2 separate regions of the Homo sapiens genome follow, and region 2 is linked to region 1. Evidence: fine-mapped expression QTL. A gene starts in region 1. The other region holds a variant in brackets. All regions are shown on one strand. Distances are between the middles of the regions.

Region 1 (5,310 bases):
GCCCAGGCAGAATCCTCACCCACGCTTCCCATAGATTACTCCACCTGGGCTGCACCCTGGGCCAGGCCCTGCCTCCCAGCGGCCCATTTTCAGCAGCATTAAGGGAGGGCAGGGCAGTCCAGATCCTAGGTCCCTGTGAAAAGTCCCCCACCAGCCCCTCACCTGCCTCCTTCCTGGCTAGGAGCTGCCAGCAGTGGTGGTGCCTGTACGTGCAGGTCAGGCGGCTGTATCGCTTACATGTCACCTGGGCTAAGAACAGCGAGGCCCTGTTCTCCAGTGAGAACAGCCCAACCTGCGCCGTGGCTGCCCTGTGGCTCCTGTTACCCAAACAATAACACCCAGTCGCCTGGCACCTCCAGGAGTGGGGGAGGGGGGACCAGACAACAGTACCCAGCGCTCTGCACCCTCTCAGGCCCAGGAAGTGGAGGCTAGAACCTAGCACTTGCCACTGGAGAAGCAGAGGCCCAGACAGGCTGAGGACTGACTGAGGATCACACATCGTTTCTGGAGCGAAGCTCCTGAGGAAATTGCGTCCCCCTGCCCCACCAATCCCAGGAAGTCCGCTGGTCTTCCCCTCTCACAGACCTGAGATGTTACAGAACTCAAAACTGAGATGAGTTTCCCAGTTAAACCTGGCTCCCTGGTGAAGCTGGCCCCTGCCTCAGGATTCCCTAAAGAGAAGCAGGAAGTGGTGCCCCAGGATCGAGCTCCTGGGTGTCCACCCTCCCTATCAGCATAAAGTCACTCCCCAGCCTCTCCCAGCCCTACCTTCTCCTTTGGAGGCCTGGTCCCAGGGGCGTGCCTGGGCAAAGGAATCCACCTCTGAGCACCACCCCCAGGACCTTGCGCCCCGGTCCTAGTAGCGGGGTGGCAGTACAGGGGCTGCAGAGGGCAGTGTTCCTCACCTCAGAGGGTGAGTCAGCGAGAGAACCTCTGAGCAGCCTAGCAGTGCCTGTAAAATCCCCATGGCAGGAATCCCAGAGCAATTTACTCCAAATTGCTCCTTCAGGTTGGTTACCTAATCCTGCCGCGCCCACCCTCCAATAGCCAGTGTCGGCCATCCCTTTAAAGGGGCAGCACACCCTGGGGGCTGGGGACCCTGGGTGCTCACCCTGATCTAAGCCTGTGGTCCTGAGAGGCAGGACACTTGGTGGCTGCCCTAGGTAAGAGAGGGCAGAGGAGGGGACTGAGACAGGGGCTCCAGGCCCAAGCTGGGAGAAAGTCATCTCAGCTCCTGGGCTCAAATGAGGTCTCCATTCCCTCCCTGCATACCCCCAACAACCACCTGGGAAGGAGAATATCACCTGCTTCCTTCCCAGCAAGAGGTTAAGGAGGAAGTTTTCCACCAGCTCATTCAGGGGCTTGACCTTGACCCTGGGGTCAAAAGGCACAGGAAGAGGTGGCCTTCTGCACGCTTAGGGACTGGAGCCACAGAGCCCTCAAGGGAGGTCAGGAGCTGCTTCTGAGAGAGAAGGAGCTGGGTTGTCTGGGGAGTCTGGGCTGGCAGAAGCCAAACTCCCCAAGGGCCCAGCCCTTCCTACCGGAAGGGGCATAAGAAGGGAGGCAGGCACCAAGGTCCCCCCACGCCCTGCCAGGAATCATCTTCACAAGGTCTAAGGGCTCTTCCCCACTCTCGTCTCCACAGCCTGGGGTAGGGCACACAGGTGTCCTCTGGCCCTAGCCTCAGGGCAAAGAAAACCAGGAGTTCCAGCCCCAGACGGGTGGTGCCATCCCACACTCCGCATCCGCCAGGGGTCAAGAGGAGCAATCCTTCTAGGCTCAGCAGCGGTGAAGCCAGAAGCAGGGAGCTCTTGGCGGAGGGCCCTGGGAGAAGTGGGGGTCCCATAACCCCTGTCTCTGGTAGAATCCCAGACATCTGGCACTGAAGATCTCCCCGTCTGCATTAATGGAGGAAGCTCCGACAGCTCTGGACAGATGCCGGGACGGGTCCTAGGTGTGGGGTGAAGGCGACCAGATCTCAGCGCCCCATAGGATCCCCTCTCCTGGCTATGGCGGGGAGGTAGTCGGCGCTTGGCGGAACTGTCCCTCGCACACGCACACCCGGGCATAGGGGGGTGGAGCCGGACAGTGGGCAAGAGATCGGAGGGCACTCGCGCCCTCGCGGGCGCCCGCCGGACTGCAGCGGCGCTTCGGGCCGCCCCGCCCCTGTGAGGATCCGGGCTCGCCGGCCGCGGGCGCCCGTCCCCCGCCCCGCTCACTCACCTCCGGGTCCAGAGGCACTAGCTCCATGAGCGGCCAGGGCTCCTTGAGCTGGGCGAGCGGCATCTCGCCGCCGCCAGGTCACCCGCGCTCCTCCGGCGGCCCCGGCTGCGCCGCCTCCCGGGTCCTGGGGTCCCTGGCTCTGCGACCCGAACCGCCGCGCCCCCCCGAGCCCCTCGCGCTCCGGCTGGGCCGTCCGCCGCCGCCGCCGCGGCACTAGCACTTCGGCTCCCTCCGTCACCCGGCGCCGCCGCGCCCATTGGCTACCTGCGCGGGGGCGGAGCCGGAGAAGCCCCGCCCCAGCCCCCGCGGCGCGGCATTCCCAGCGCGGACCCCCGCCCCCGCCGCGCCCCGAGGGCCGGCCCCGCCCCTGCCGCGAGCCCCCGGCCCGCGCTCGGCTCCGCCGGAGAGGCCCTGCTGGCTCCTTCCCTTCCAGTGGTGTACCCCTGGACACACCACACCAGGGCCACCGTTCTCCCCCGCTCAGCTCTTTTGGAATCCCAGCCCAGATGTTCCTTCTCCTTCCAACGGGAGAGAAGCACCTTATCCCCGACCCCAGCACACACATTCACACTGGGTTCCTGGGCCTGATCTAGGCTGAGGCTTGGAAGGAGCCTGAGACCCACTCCCCTTAGGCCCTCAACTCACCAGGCCCTAGAGATCCCCTATCCTCTAATTTCTACCCCGCCCTGAAGCTAACACTGTGATCTCCGGGCGATCTCAGTGCCCCAGGCCAAGATGGGCATCAGCAGTTGTTACCACCATCAGGACCCATAGTGCCACCACAGAGTGATTGATTGATCGATTGATTTTACATAATGTATATAAATATTACATATATAAATAAATATGTATAAATAAATATTATATATATGCACATATATGTATGTATGTGTGTATATAGTGAGAGAGAGAGAGACACGAAGTTTCGCTTTGTTACCTAGGCTGGTCTCTGACTCCCCGGCTCAAGTGATCCTCCTGCCTCGGCCTCCCAAAGTGCTGGGATTACAGGCATGAGCCACCGCGCCCGGCCAAGAGTGATTTCTTAATATGCGTTTTTGCAATCTGTGCTCTGCCCTATCACTTGAAGGGGGTCCTTTCAGGTCAGGTCTCCCTGGAGTCACCTGCAGCCCCAGCTCTGGACTAGTTTGGGTTTGCGACTCTCTGAGGAGGGACCAGGCTCCCAGGATGAACCGAGGCTTGGTGGGACTTGGAGTGAAAGGCCAGGGAGACTGGTTGCCCCAGAGAGATTCAGCCTCCACCTAAAGAGCCTTAGGGGTCCGGGTGTGCTGAGATGTATTCACATGTGAGGAGTGAGCTTGCTGGAGGGACAAGCTTGCTGGTTTCGCAGGAAGACTGGTCAGTTATTTGCAAAGCTGTTCTAAGGCAGGGGAATGGGAAGGAATGTTTATCAAAAGCTTCCTGCGAGCCATGTGATTTCCTTGAATGATTACCACCACCTAGTTTACAAATCCTGAAACAAGCTCGGAAAGATGAAGTGACTTACCCAAGGTCACACAAGAGGTTGAGAACAGACTAGGGCTTAAAAAAATCAAAGTGTCACACCTGTAATCCCAGCACTGGGAGGCCGAGGCGGGCGGATCACGAGGTCAGGAGATTGAAACCATCCTGGCTAACATGATGAAACCCTGTCTCTACTAAAAATACAAAAAATTAGTAGGGCGTGGTGGCAGGCACCTGTAGTCCCAGCTACTCGGGAGGCTTAGGCAGGAGAATGGTGTGAACCCGGGAGGCGGAGCTTGCAGTAAGCGGAGATAGCCCCCACTGCACTCCAGCCTGGGCGACAGAGACTCCATCTCAAAAAAAAAAAAATCAAAGTGGATAAGGATTTCTCCAGAATCCACGTGCTCCCCCTTTTCCATGGCTTTCCCAGGGTAGGACCTCAGCTGTTGAACTGAATTTTGAGTGAAAGGACTTTGGAACCCAACAATTCTGGGTTTGAATTCCAGCTCTGCTACCTTCTTAACACAGGGAAACTCATTTTATGCCTCTAAACCTCAATTTCTCCATCTGTAAAATGGGAATTATAATCTCAATCTTTCAGGTATATAGGACAAGATTCATTTTAATTCAATAAATTTACAGCTATATATTTTTTATTTGTTTTTTAGAGACGGAGTCTCGCTCTGTTGCCTAGGCTGCAGTGCAGTGGTAAAATCGTAGTTCACTGCAGCCTTGAACTTCTGGGCTCAGGCGATCCTCCCACCTCCCACAAGTAGCTGGCACTTCAGGTGTGTGCCACCATGCCCAGCTAATTTTTTTTCTTTTCTTTTGAGACAGAGTCTTGCTCTGTCAACAGGCTGGAGTGCAGTGGCTCAATCTCAGCTCACTGCAACCTCCACCTCCCAGGTTCAAGCAATTCTCCTGCCTCAGCCTCCTGAGTAGCTGGGACTACAGGTGCGTGCCACCACGCTTGGTTAACGTTGTGTATTTTCAGTAGAGACGGGGTTTCACTGTATTAGCTGGGATGGTCTCAATCTCCTGACCTCATGGTCTGCCCATCTTGGCCTCCCAAAGTGCTGGGATTATAGGCGTGAGCCACTGTGCCAGGTCCCCAGCTAATTTTTTATATGTTTTGTTTTTGTAGAGATGGGGTTTCACTATCTTGCCCAGGCTGGTCTTAAACTCCTGGCCTCAAGCGATCCTCCAGCCTCCCAAAATGCTGGAATTACAGCCACCACACCTGGCTTATTTATGGCTATATATTACACACTAGACCCTCTTTCTGAGCATGTATTGTAAGCCAAGCCTTCTTTTTATTATTATTATTATTATTTTGAGATGGAGTCTCACTCTGTCGCCCAGGCTGGAGTGCAGTTCAGTAGCCTGATCTCGGCTCACTGCAACCTCCGCCTCCCGGGTTCAAATGATTCTCCTGCTCAGCCTCCCAAGTAGCTGGGACTATAGGCATGTGCCACCACACCTGGCTAATTTTTTTTTTTTTTTTGACGGAGTCTCGCTCTGTCACCCAGGCTGGAGTGCAGTGGTGCGATCTCGGCTCACTGCAAGCTCCGCCTCCCGGGTTCACGCCATTCTCCTGCCTCAGCCTCCCGAGTAGCTGGGACTACA
Region 2 (5,367 bases), 45 kb before region 1:
GGCCCTAGAACAGCACTTCTCAAACTTTAATATGCACAGAAATCACATGTAGACCTTGTTATAAGATAGATTCCTATTAACCAGGTCTGGGGACAGGCCTGAGATTCAGCACTTCTACCCAGCTCCCAGATGATGCTGATGCTACTGGTATGTGGACCACACTCTCAGAAGCCCCGTCTCTTGGCTTTGCAAACTTTCTCCAAGCTAATGACTTCCAAATTTATCTTTCCAGTTCAGATCTCTCCCTAGAACTTCAACTTCTAATTACAACTCTTATTTGACATCTCCATTTGGATATTTTTATTTATATTTATTTATTTATTTTTTGAGATGGAGTCTCGCTCTCTCACCCAGGCTGGAGTGCAGTGGCACGATCTCGGCTCACTGTGAGCTCCATTTTCTGGGTTCATGCCATTCTCCTGCCTCAGCCTCCTGAGTAGCTGGGACTACAGGTGCCCGCCACTAGGCCCGGCTAATTTTTTGTATTTTTAGTAGAGACAGGGTTTCACCATGTTAGCCAGGATTGTCTCGATCTCCTGACCTCCTGATCCGCCCGCCTCGGCCTCCCAAAGTGCTGGGATTACAGGCATGAGCCACTGCGCCCGGCATAATTTTCTATTATTTTTAGTAGAGACGGGGTTTCTCCATGTTGGTCAGGCTGGTTTCGAACTCTCAACCTCAGGTGATCCACCTGCCTCGGCCTCCCAAAGTGCTGGGATTACAGGCGTGAGCCACCATGCCCAGCCATTTGGATACTTAAAAGTTACCTCCCACAGAGCTCTAAAAATTTTCCTCAAACCTATTTCTCTCCAATGCTTCCCCCAAAACTCTTTCCCCAAAAATCTAGAAGATATCCTTGAATCTTCTGTTTCCCTTATCCTCTGCATGCAAACTGCCAGCAAGTGCTGTCTACTTTACCTCCAAAGCATATCCTGACCCCATCTACTCCATCCCAATCTCCATCCCACCACCCTAGTCCAAGCCACCTCATCTCTTGCCTGGGCTACTGCAGTAGCCACCAACCTGGTCACCTTGCTTCCCTCCTGCCTCCCCACCTCACTGTCCAAATTCTCTACAGAGCAATCGGAGTGATCTTTTATTTTTTTGAGACAGTCTCGCTCTGTCGCCTGGGCTGGAGTGCAGTGGTGCGATCGCGGCTCACTGCAACCTCTGTCTCCCAGATTCAAGCAATTCTCATGCCTCAGCCTTGCGAGCTGATGGGTGGGAGCATGCGCCACCACACCCAGCTAATTTTTGTATTTCTAGTAGAGAGAGTTTCGCCATGTTGGCCAGGCTGGTCTTGAACTCCTGACCTCAAGTGATCTGCCTGCCTCGGCCTCCCAAAGTGGTGGGATAACAGGCGTGAACCACTGCACCTGGCCCAGAGTGATCTCTTAAAAATGTGAATCAAATCATGATCAAATCATGTCACTTTCCTGCTCAAATTATTTTAGGAGCTTGCGCCTCACTCAGAATTAAATGCACGCCTAATCCTGGCTTACAGTGCCTAGCATAACTGGCCTCTGCCTCCTTTCCAGCCTCATCTTGGGCAAACGCCTGGCTCTGGGGTCACAGCTACATCAGCCTCCTCTCATCCCTGAGCACACCGAGCCTGTTTCCCCCTCATGGCCTTTGTCCTGACTGCCCTCTGCCTACCAGTCTTGGCTGACCCCTTCTCACCATTCAGATCTCAGCTCCTGGGTTACCTCCCCAGAATGGCCTTCCCTGATTACCCAATATCTCACCCCAGTTTAATTCTGTATGTGTCTTATCAGTAGCTGACCATGGCTTGTTAAGTGTCCGTTTCCCCTACTGGGAAGTAAGACCCCTGGACACAATGACCTTGTTCTTTACCTGGTTCACCAGCATCCAGAACAGGGCCAGAATGAGTGCTCAGAAAATACTGCATGAGAAAATGTCATTCCCCAACTTGAGCCTGTTTCCCCATCTATAAAACAGGGATAATACAGAGCATCTACCTCACAGGGTTAAGATTAAATGAGATATTCATGTGAGGCCCAGGCATAGTGCCTGGCACTTGGTCACCATTGGCTAATAATACTGTTATCAATACCATAATGGAATCCCCTGGCAGGAACACGTGGGCCAGGCCAGCGGGATTCCCACACACTCCCCAGATGACCTGGTTCCAAGCAGCTGGGCTAACTGGCCCTGGCCCATTTTCTGTCACTGCCAATGTCTTCAACATCCGATAGCAGAGAGAGGGTAAATTCAGGGATGAAGAGTGCAGGAGAGCGTGCTTCAACTCAACAGTTTATTAGAAAGGCCATGGACAGATGAACCCTGAGTAACCAGCTGAGGAAGAAATGAAAAAAGACCCTGTCCCTCATGGCCCGCCCACTGGCCTCCTGTGAACTCTGTCCTGTTGCCAACCCCAGATGAAGTCAGCCAAAAAGTGCTTTCCACATCCTCTCTCTGGGGCTGCCCAGCCTGACCGCAGGGGATCCACTGGCAGAGCCAAGGTGGATGCTGGTGCCTGAAGCTGGAAGCCAGCAGGACATGAGACCCCTCCTGTAGCAGGAAGTGGTTCTAGAACTCCCAGCAGAACAGAACGGAAAAGGAGCTGATTGGGGATAGAATGAGTTCTGCTAAACAGCCAGATGCTCTGAGAGAGGTGACACTGGACTGTCTCGGAGGTGTGTGCAGATGGCTACAGGTGGCCAATC[G/A]TGGGGGTCCCCAGGGTGGGATCCCAAAGCTGCTCTAAAGAGTCTCAGAGAGCCCCAGCGTGACTCAGTTCCCCTCCTGGGGCCGCAATGGCTGTTTCTGCTCCCAGAAAGGCAAATGGATCTTGTAAAAATCCATGGTGGTTGATGCCATTTTTTTCATAAAAAAAAGTTTATACAGTGAATCGCTTTCCACCAGCAGAGCCTGAGCCGAGAAGAGTCCATCCTGGGGAAGGAGAAGGCACTTCTCACACCCTCATTAGGGGTGTTCTGGGCTGGCAGCTTCCCCGGCCCCTCGGGTTCCAGCTCCCTCTGGCCCTGTGGTTCCGGCCTGCTCCCTCTGGGAAGCATGCTGACTGTGTCAAGCTAGCACCGCCCTGTGGCCCGAATGCCCTGGTGCCTCACAGGGTGGTGGATGGCAACTTCCTCACTCGCCGCTGGGCCAGGATGGATGACTCGATGGGCTTCAGCTGGGGGGTGGGCTTGGAGCTGTTGAGTGCGGAGTACGTGGCAGCCATGGCTCCCTGAAAGAGAAGTGGGGAGGTCAGGTCACAATGGTGGGAGATGTAGCGGGGAGGGGATCCATGCCCCAAGGGTAGGCCAGCCCCTCTCAGTGTTCCACAGCCCACTTTTTTTGGTTTTGTTTTTGTTGTTTTTTTTTTTTTGAGATACAGTCTCACTCTGTCACCCAGGCTGGAACGCAATGGCACAATCTTGGCTCACTGCAACCTCTGCCCCCAGGGTTCAAGCGATTCTCCTGTCTCAGCCTCCCAAATGGCTGGGATTACAGGCGCTTGCCACCACACCTGGCTAATTTTTGTATTTTTAGTAGAGATGGGGTTTCACCATCTTGGTCAGGCTGGTCTTGAACTCCTGACCTCGTGATCCACCCACCTCAGCCTCCCAAAGTGCTGGGATTACAGGTGTGAGCCACCGCGCCCAGCCTAGCCCACTGTTAATCCAGCCTCAGTGGTCCTTTATGGTCATGGGTCCTGCCTCCCCCATCAGACTGGAGGGTTCAGAGGTCAGCAGCTGTGCCTTCCAGAGGATTGGGGGCTGTGAGTGCACCGTGACACTGTAGCATGTTAGGCTCCCTGACGGCAGGGCTGTGTCTTCTTCTCCTATGTTCCACCTCATGGTGCTTGGTACAGACATGGCATTGCCTGGCTCTTCCACAAGTCCCTGACCATGCCACCTTGGGCTGACCCCCCAGATGCCCAGCAGCCCAAGGGTGGCCATACCTTCACAAGCTGTAGGTCCTGGTGGGACAGCTGGCTTTGGGGAAGCTTGTCTTTCTGGGTGACCCATGGATGCTGCAGAACCTGCTTAGCTGTGAGGCGCTGGTGGGGATCCACGTGTAGCATCTTGGACACCAGGTCCTGGGGACACAGTGGGCAAGGGGGTTGGGGGAGGGCTGCAGGGGAGCAGGCCCCTGATGGGGCACAGGAGGGCAACCATCTCCTGCTAGCTCCCGCCTGAACCCTTGCGGCAGCCCCTGGGATCCATTCTCCACTCTGCTCCAGGGCTCCCCGCACACAGCCAAGGTTCCTGTCGCTGGGCCTTTGCTGCTCTAGGCCCTTCGTCCTGGAACACCCTTCCATTTCTCCTTTGCCTTCAAAAAGCCATGTGGGAAGGTGGGAAAAGCCTCAGGTTTGGGCTCAGACAGATTCAGGTTCAAAACTTGCCTTCTGCACTCATCAAATGAGTGCCCTGGGCAAGTTCCTTCAACTCTCTGAGCCTCAGTTTCCCTGCTGAGAAATAGGAATAACCACTCCCTGCCTCACAGGTTGATGTGAGGTGGCCGGCCGTACATAGAGGGTTCAACTCTGTCTGGCATACAGGTTCCCAATGACCAAAAACTGTTGCTAATACTGAAAGCTCACATGCTACTTCCTCCGAGGAGGCTCTGCTTGGCATGGCCAGTTGCTCTGCTCTGTGTCTCCACGGTCCACACCCCTGGCCAAGAGCGTCCGCCTATCTGTGCCTCCAGGCATCTCTGCCCCTTGTGTGCAAACCTGTATCCCTCACTACACTACGTTTCCACAAAGCCGGGACTGTGATGATGCAGCCCTCAGTGCCCCACAGGGTCCAGAATGAGAAGGGCCAATGAATGATCACCAGGTTACCCCAACAAGGTACGGAGGTGGTGGTGGTCTGCCTGGGAATCTTCCGCTTGGAGAAATACAGCAACAGGGATTTGTGGAACATCCGCTTGGAGAAATGAGGCTGTTCATGAACTGCTGAAAAGCCCTAGGATGGGACCCTGCCTCCCTCCTCCAAATAAGCCCACGCAGGCCGTACAGACTCACCTTGGCTGTCTCTGAAACTGTGTTCCAATTTCCCCCACTGAGGGTAAACTTCCCACTGCCGATCCGGGTTAGGATTTCCTCTGGTGTGTCACTGGGACCGTTGGCAAATGGAGTATATCTGCAGAAAAGCCCGCACGGTCTGGGTACAGACTCTGGCCTCCATACTGGGGCTGGGGCTGCGGTGGGAGACTGTGTCTCCCCCTCAGATGGGGTACTCCCAAGGTAGAGCTCCTGGAGGCAGGAGCATGTCCCTATTTCCAGACCATCCTGGGGCGGGGCTGGCTGAGCCATTCCTATCAGACAAGCACCACTCAGCCCAAGTGCTAGGGCTGCAGGAGTGGGGAAGGGTCCAGGCCAGGGGCACTCACCCTGCC

Evidence for each region. PIP is the estimated chance that this variant, and not a neighbour inherited with it, causes the effect.
Region 2: its variant is fine-mapped to the expression of RPS6KA1 in whole blood (TOPMed, PIP above 0.99). The same link has a PIP of 0.9 or more in lung and nasal epithelium.

What each region holds. Positions count from the first base shown.
Region 1 is chr1:26,526,897-26,532,206 of GRCh38, reverse strand. It overlaps RPS6KA1 (ribosomal protein S6 kinase A1), which reads right to left and starts at 2,446. Exons shown (of 22, transcript NM_002953.4): 1 at 2,224-2,446. The coding sequence starts at 2,286. It overlaps LOC124903884 (a long non-coding RNA gene), which reads left to right and starts at 809. Exons shown (of 2, transcript XR_007065558.1): 1 at 809-1,009; 2 at 1,646-3,087. RefSeq lists enhancers at 18-929, 930-1,840 and a silencer at 2,082-2,561.
Region 2 is chr1:26,571,920-26,577,286 of GRCh38, reverse strand. It overlaps RPS6KA1 (ribosomal protein S6 kinase A1), which reads right to left. Exons shown (of 22, transcript NM_002953.4): 19 at 5,362-5,367; 20 at 4,994-5,111; 21 at 3,926-4,063; 22 at 2,262-3,208. The coding sequence ends at 3,086. Among named protein-coding and RNA genes, the nearest start is that of MIR1976, 20 kb to the right of the region's middle. The variant G/A (reference allele first, on the strand shown) is at 2,688.